Regions from separate parts of the Homo sapiens genome. Here region 1 is linked to region 2. The links come from fine-mapping of genetic effects on gene expression. Tissue or cell type: prefrontal cortex. Region 2 holds a variant in brackets; the other region holds the start of a gene. All regions are shown on one strand. Distances are from middle to middle.

Region 1 (4,000 bases), 200 kb after region 2:
AATTGGGGGAGGAAAGAGGGAAAAAGGAAGGAAAGGAGATGATTCTGAGGGCTCCAGACTTAAAGGAGAAAAGGGTCCTATCTCTTTTCTCTTAATGTTAAATGTTATTTTGTTTGTGGAATGTTCACTCTATAATATATATGTTGATTAAGTATACCATTATGCATGATTTGCAATATTGATTGACCTGTGGAGTGCCTTGAGCCTGTGTGTCCAAGACTCTGAGTGCTGAGTGAGTGGGAAGTACTAAGGAGAATTGCTTTCTTGGAAACTCCATGTAGTTCGTGGCTTTTGTGATTGAAATAGCATCAGTAAAAGTCTGGCATTGTGGAAAAACACAAATGTACGTGGACTCTGTTATTTCTGACCTTGCACTCCTCACAAGGCATGTGAAATTGGAGTCACAGATGTAGAAACCAGGCAGAAGACAGTCTGAAGAGATGATACTTGAGAATTTTCCAAATATAATAAAAGACAACAAATCACAGATCCAAGAAGCTCAGATAAACCCAAGGACTTTCTTATAAAGGAAAAGATATACTTACCATATGATCAAATAATCTCACTCTAAGGCATTTACACAAGCAAAATGAAAACCAATGTCCATACAACGATCTGTATGTGAATGTTTATAATGGTTTTATTTATATTCACTAAAATCTGGGAACAACCCAAATATCCAGCAACTGGCAAGTGAATTGTATGATATATCCATACAATGGAATTCTACTCAGTAATACAAAGGAAGAAATTATTGATACATGTAATAATATGGATGAATCTCAACTACAAAATACTAAGTGAAAAAATATCAGATCCAAAAGGATATATAGGATTCCACTTATGTGACATTCTGGAAAAGGCAAAACTAGGGACAGAACACAAATTAGTGATTGCCATGGTTTGAGTATGGGATAAGTGGACTAACTACAGAAACAAGGGAACTTTGGGGATGACAGACAATTCCATATTTGACTGTAAGTGAATGTATGTACAAAATTCAAAACTAAAAAGGATAAAACTTTATGTAAATTATACTTTAAATCAACTTTTTTTTTTAATGAGGTGATTTAAATAAATGTGTTAGGTAGCTTGATGACACGGTAAGTATGAAAGTGGTACCAGAATGGCTTGAAACTCATAAAATATTGGCAGAGTGGTTATGAGTTATTCCAAAAATCAAATAATGCATATGTTGATTCGTAAGACCCTTGTCATTTCAGAAGCTGGAAATGAAACAGTACTAATGAATTTGTGGCTTCACCACTTTTTAGCTCCACAACCAGGAGCTATATCAGGAGAGATTAGGTTAATCTCTCTAAACCTGTTTTCTTTTCTATAAAAGAGGGATCATCATACTTGCCTACAGGGTAGAGTTACCAGATAAAATACAGGACGATTGGTTAAGTGATGTGAATTTCAGGTCAACCACGAATCCTACTTTAGGACGAGTAGGTACCATATATATTTATAATTAAAAAGCGATTCGCCGTTAATCTGAAATTCAACTTTAGACGTTCTGTAATTCGTGCGTGTGTGTGTGTGCATGTGTGTGTGTGAGTGACAGAGAGAGAGAGAGAGAGAGAGAGAGAGAGAGAGAGACAGAATCAGAATCTGGCAGCCCTACAGAGAGCCCTACAGAGAGGTTATGCGAATAAATAAGACACTGGAACCGCAAGACGTTCGCCCAGAGTTTGGCATAATAAGCGCCTCAGTGGTAGCGAACGCTATTTTAACCCCAGCCTCTGATGCATTACGTCTTCCTTTATTCTTTCGCCCAATTGTTAAATGAATCAACTGTACGTGTGGCCCTTCATTCCAAGCAGGCAAAAACTCGAAGGAAGCATCCAGGTGCATTATACCAGGACCCCAATTGTTAAGCTTAGAAATTCCAAGAGCGGGCGACGTCATGACGCAAAGGCCCCGCCCCGGAAGAAGCCCTAGACGCGTAAATAAGACGCCGACCGGCGCGGCGCTAGCCTCGGGGCTTGACGGGATTGTGGCGGTCCTCTCTCCCAATTCGGAAGCTACAGCTACCTCCGGACGCTCTCAAGATGGCGACCTCTCTGGGTTCCAACACCTACAACAGGCAGAACTGGGAGGATGCGGTGAGTGTGCCTGCCGGAGGAGGATGGAAGGAGGAGGCGAAGCCGCGCACCTTGCAAGCTGGCAGGACAGGGCCTGCGGCGCGGCCGAAGGAATACCGGGGAGGAGCCAGCGCGGCGGCCTAGCTTGGCCGGAGCAGGAGGGCGGAGGGCGATCCTCCTGCGGGCTTGAAGGGAGGGGGCTTAGCCAGGGTCCCGGGACCAGCACCCTTTCCATCCCTGCCCCCTCCAGCCTATTAGAGCTGGTTTTCTTTTCTCCCGCCGCCTGCCGGAAGTGCAGACAGCGCCCCCTCCCGCGATCGGGTCGTGATGGACTTCGGGTTCCTGCCGTGCCTAGTTCCCCACCCTCGCTTCCCGCCCCCTCGCCACCCCAAGTGTCACTGAGGTGTCAGGGTCTTCGGAGGGTGGTCCTCAACCAGATTTCCCATTTTCACCAGGACTTCCCCATTCTGTGCCAGACATGTCTTGGAGAAAACCCATATATCCGAATGGTGAGTGATCGCGTGTGAAACGAGTTATTCATGTCCTGTCGATGTTGTGGTACTTGCACACTGTGAAGTGTTTCTCTTAGACAAGCAGAAAAAATGATGCTCTTTTACTAACGCGAAGTGCTGGACGACTTGCAAAGAACTGTCATGTGTATTCTCTTACGAATCCGGTAACACTCCTGTAATGTAGGGGTAATAACGATAGCTAGTATTTGTTGAGCATTTACCTAGGAAATAGGTCTGTTGACCAGAAGGTGAGAGCGTTTGTGTCTTTTCATACAATAGTAAGGAATGGAGCTGGGATTTAAGTTCACATATTCTGGCTCTAGGAATGTCAGCATGATAGGAGGAGAACCAGAACTAGAAACTAGGTTTCCTGAATCCTGGTCAAATGCCTTTTGGCCAGTGTACTTTATCTCTTTAAAGTAAGCATTCCCCCTTTGTTACAAACTAGGGTAAAATTAGAACCAGTTAACAATAATAAGGTTAGGGCTGTATTATTGTGTAGTCGTAGAGGTGTTGATATGTTAGTATGTTCACGATGTTTGAATGGTTCAAGATGTTTGAATAGTTCTGTTTAAACAGAACATTTACTATATTCCGGGCATTGGCACAGGACAAGTCTACAGTAGCTACCTTTTGACTAAACTTTGTAAAGTGGGCGGGCCACAGCTGTATCCTCTCTGATTTAGGGATTGTGGAAAGCATTAGGAATGTTAGTTCTTGGGAGTGAACTTGGGAGCCAAAAATGAACCTAAGAGTTGTGGCTGTGGAAAGACACTCACTTACCTAGCATTAGATGCATATACTCTATTTCTTTTTTCTGTAGAGACAGCATCTCGCTATGTTGCCCAGGCTAGTCTGGAACTCCTGGGCTCAAGCAATCCTTCCACCTTGGCCTCTCAAAGTGTTGGGATTACAGGCGTGAGCCACTGCCACCCAGCCCAGATCCATATACTCTTGAGATGTTATCACTTATAATATGTTGTTATAGTATGTTCCCTACCCTCTTCCCAAAAAAGGTTGGGTTTTGGGTTTTGTTGTTGCTGTTTTTCTCTCTCTAGGATGCCAGGGATTTCCAGACACATTTCTTGGGTTATGTTTAAGGAAAGAGTAGACATCTGGCTTTTTTCTTTCTGTAACTCCAGTTCTTTTCTATTTTTTTTCTATTATAGACCAAAGAAAAGTATGGGAAGGAATGCAAAGTAAGTATGTCTGTTAAAGAGTAATGATTTCTGTTTCATTTTTCTTTTCTCTACCAAATTAGCCTTCAGCTTACTAAGTTTTGAGGTCTTCCAGTAAAAATCAGTGCTATACAACTTTTTATGTATTACTGATATATTCATTGGCTGGCAACTGTTTATGTGGGAGGTAAGAAAATGAACCCTCTAATGTAGAGATTCTTAC
Region 2 (4,265 bases):
TGTCTATAGCTTTTTTCTAGCTACAATGGCAGAGTTGAGTAGTTACAACAGAAACCGTATGGCCTGCAATGCCAAAAATGTAAACTTTACTGAAAAAGTTTGTTGACCCCTGCTTTCAAGGAACAAATTGATTACAGATGCTTCCTATTGTCCAGCTTTATCCACAGGTAAATTCATTAACGTAAGATAGGCACATTTTGAATGTTTTTCTAAACTATGTATTTCTCTCAAAAAAGCCATTCTTAAATTATATTTATCTGGCAAATCTTTGGAGGGCAAAGGTCCCTGATGCTCCATATCTTTTGCTGTGCTTTCAGAATTTGTAGGATTAGTGTCAAGTTCAAGGCTGTTCCTTCTTTGCTCTCCCATTTTTAAAAGTTTGTATTATTTTTTCTTTCTGCCAGCATTGGCATATAAACATTTAAAATTATATAAAAGATAAAAATTTAAAACAGAGAGACCTTTTAACTTAAACTCACCTTCTCCCAGGATAATCAGTGTTAACCATTGCTTCTAACCTTCCAAACCTTTTTTGATATGAATATAACTGTGATTGATTAACAGTTTATATGTAGAAGTACAAATGTGTGAGAATGTCTCTTATTTTCTTGCGCTTTTCTTTTGGAAAAAGAAGGTTATAGTAAATATTTTGTTCTGCAACCTGATTTTTAACTTACTGTCCAATATAAAGGTCTTTTGTATACACTTAGAATATCTTTTTCCATATCAGTACATAGAATTCTCCTTTACTATTTTATCAGATGCATAATATTTCCTTGTGGCCTGGTTGCCTGGGATTGTTTCTTCATCTTACAGATAGAGATTATAATCCCCATAGGGTTGTTGTGAGAATTGAGTAAAAACCATGCTTAAAACCATAACTGGGGCATGGTTTGTACTGATATATTTAAGTGTCAGCTGTTATTACATCATCATTATGATTATCGTTGTGAAATCTTGAAATCAGCTTTTACATTAGGAGTCCTTGTGTATATTTTACAGTAGAGTTTAGAGTTCTATTGCAAAAAGATTTTTTCATTGTTGTTTTTGTTTTTGGATTTCAGTAGCTTTGTTTTAGAGCCGTGCTGTCTAATATAGTAGCCATCAGCCAAATGTGGTTACTGAACACTTGAAATTGGCTAGTCTGAATTGAGATATGTTAAGTACATACCAGATTTCAAAGTTATATTTCCAAAAAACTCACTAGTAGTTTTTAAGGATTCCATGTTGAAACGATATCTTGAGTAATATATGGGAATAAATGTATATTATTGAAAATAATTTTTTGAATGTGGTTCCTAGAAAATGTAAACTTACCTATCTGGTTAGCTTTATATTTCTGTTACACAGCACTGCTTTGAGGGAGAATGGATTTTTTACTTAGCCCAGTAAATCCAACTGCTGTGGCTAATTAGTTGATTAAATGCTTCTTCCTTCAGGAAGAGGGCTGTATATTAGTTCCCTACCATCCAGAAGTGAAGTCGTTTTTACACATATCCTCCTTTTCAGCCTTTAACACCTACTTCCCTTTCATTTCTTCCATCACTTAATAGCACTTCCATTTCCCCAGGGACCTGAGCTGTAAAAATTGTTTGTAGTTGACAAAAGTATAATTTTTCACTGATTATGTACTATATTTTCCTCAAAATTAAGAAATTTATACCTACTTATTATTTTGAAGCATTTGGGTATCATTAATAAAGCAAAATCAGAATGTTAGAATGATAACATCTATGAATTTACCTCTCAGAATGGATTTCCTCTGTATTCCACATTTATTATCTTTCTTATGTTACTTTTCTTCAGATAAAACAAATTAGACTAATACACAAAACAGTGTTTAACTAAACATAAGTTTTAATTTATTTTTTCTTTATAATCATGATTCATTTAACAAACGTTTCTTAAGTACCCAGTATATGTCATATGCACTGGCTAGCTGTTGAATATCCTGAGCAGATTTACGTATAGTTTTCTTCTGGAAGGACTGCAGAGAAAAAAGAGATGTAGAAACCAACATTAACACATCGGCAGAGATGTAAAGAGATGTAGAAACTAACATTAACACATAAAAGTTCTGTAGCAGACATGGGAGCAGGTACTGTTATAGCAGAGAGGGGGGAACAACCAGATTTCTAAGGAAGTAGGTAATAGGCTTAAATGATTATTGAACTTTGGCTC[ATG/G]AGGGAAGTAGGCTGAGGACAGGAAGCAGCATTTGTAAAAGTAGAAAGGGCAGAGTGATTTTAGGAAGGCTGAGAATTTTGAAACTAAAATGGAGAGTGCTTCATGGAAAGGTCGACTAAGGTTGGTATTGAAGTGATAAAATATAAAAGATCATGATGTTTACAGTATCAGGGAGGCAGTTTGGACTGCAGTAGTCAAGAACCTAGACTATTGAGAATAAATCTTGCAGATAAGAGAGTTCATCAATCATATATTTAGTATGTAATCATCTTTGGCAAGTATTTACTTAACCACTGTAATCCTCAGTTTTCTTATATGTACAATAGGAAAATTAACAGGATTGTTATGGACAACTAACTGTTTGGCAGCTTGACAGAGTGAATATGGAATTGGTGTGGGATGAGAGAAAGCTTGAGATTTGAGATGACTGAGATGAGACTGTGTTAGCAAAGAAGAAAACAAAGGAGGCTTTTAAGCAGGCAATGTTGACATTTGAAATAATCATTTTCATTCTGAAAGTGGTGTTTGGTAATTATGGAATATTTGGGGAAAAAGTCTGAACAATTTATTTAAAATAATACAGATCACTATTAGATTAGTTTCTGCTATTAGTTAACAACTATTGTGAGGATAATGGTGACATAATTAAAATAGTCAATGTTCCCTCCAGAAACATTTTATAACTCTACTCTTACCCAAATTCATTTTTGATGTTATGTCACTAATTTGTTGTGGTTTCTTCATTAATGTTTTCTGTACATTTTTGTTGAGTTTATCATTTGGGATTCCTTATTTTTTGTTGCTACTGTAATTGGTATATTCATTCTATTACTAACTATTGTATGTATATAAGAAAGCTATTACATTTGGGGGAAGCTAAGATCATTTTCCTATGAAATAAAGAGATTAGATTAATGATCTTCTAGAGCTCTGACATTCTATGATTCTCTAAATGTAGCTTTTCTTTTTTTAAAAAAAAATGTACTTACAAAGGGCATTTCTGCTCTATAATCATTAATTAAAATTCTCCTGTGTCTTATTTTGTTACTTTTATGGCCTTTAGTACTTTTTAGAGTTTAAATTTTTATTCCATCAGAATCTATTCTTTTTCCCAGGTATTATATAGTGTATTGGTTTGCTAGGATTGCTGTGACAAAGTACCACAAACTGGGTGGCTTAAACAATAGAAATTTAGTCTCATAGTTCTGGAGGCTAGAAGTCCAAAATCAAGGTTGTTCTTCAGGACTGTGAGGGATGTATTTGTTTCATGCCTCTCTCCTTGGCTTCTTTATAACTATCTTCTTTTTTCTCTTTGCATTATCTTCCCTCTATGCATGTCTTTGTGTTCAAATTTCCCCCTTTGGATGAGGACACAGATCATATTGGATTCAGTTTCACCCTAAATACCTCATATGGCTAGGTATATCTGCAATGACCCTGTTTCCAAGTCATATCACATTTTGAGGTACTGGGGGTTAGGACTTCAACATATAAATATTCAGGAGATACAACTCAACCCATAATATTTCTTCAGCATTATTCTTTTCCTCTTTACTATTCATTGTTTCAAAACGATTCATCCAATAATCCATCTTCCTCCCAGTTATTTGGATGCTGCCTTTAAAATGTATGAAATTACTATATGTATTAGGTAGGCATTTTATGGTTTACCTCTTTTTTTCTCCTCATATGCCTGGCTCTGCTTGCTAAAAACAGGATTTTATTTTGTTTTTCCCAAAAACTATTATACAAAACTAGGTGTGGATGTAGTTGTGCACATTATAGCAGAAATTATGAGAATGATCATTTCAGATTGAACAGGAATTTACTATTACAGGGGTTAGTATCATTCAAGGATGTGGCTGTGGATTTCACCCAGGAGGAGTGGCAGCAACTTGACCCTTCTCAGAGGACCCTGTACAGGGATGTGATGCTGGAGAACTACAGCCACCTGGTCTCAATGGGTAAGGATGGCTTCCCTGAATAACTCAGAGTTGTCCAATCAAGTGCCTTTCCTTACTAGTTGCTGTGATTAGATTGTTCCTGACATATGTCATGACTTTTATGACCTTCATACCTTT

Alleles and levels. Positions count from the first base shown, and alleles are read on the strand shown. Sizes are in standard deviations (SD) of each study's normalised expression.
In carriers of allele ATG in region 2, the expression in prefrontal cortex of the gene that starts at base 1,978 in region 1 tends to be higher than with G alone (large effect, 1.4 SD a copy in BrainSeq).

What was found. PIP is the estimated chance that this variant, and not a neighbour inherited with it, causes the effect.
Region 1: it holds the start of RBM22, and the variant in region 2 is fine-mapped to the expression of RBM22 in prefrontal cortex (BrainSeq, PIP 0.95).

Annotation. Positions count from the first base shown.
Region 1 is chr5:150,699,040-150,703,039 of GRCh38, reverse strand. It overlaps RBM22 (RNA binding motif protein 22), which reads left to right and starts at 1,978. Exons shown (of 11, transcript NM_018047.3): 1 at 1,978-2,108; 2 at 2,543-2,596; 3 at 3,769-3,798. The coding sequence starts at 2,055. RefSeq lists enhancers at 1,183-1,959, 1,960-2,736.
Region 2 is chr5:150,898,311-150,902,575 of GRCh38, reverse strand. ZNF300 (zinc finger protein 300) reads left to right here. Exons shown (of 6, transcript NM_052860.4): 4 at 4,022-4,148. It also overlaps a transcript of IRGM not described here. Among named protein-coding and RNA genes, the nearest start is that of ZNF300, 4.5 kb to the left of the region's middle. The variant ATG/G (reference allele first, on the strand shown) is at 2,182.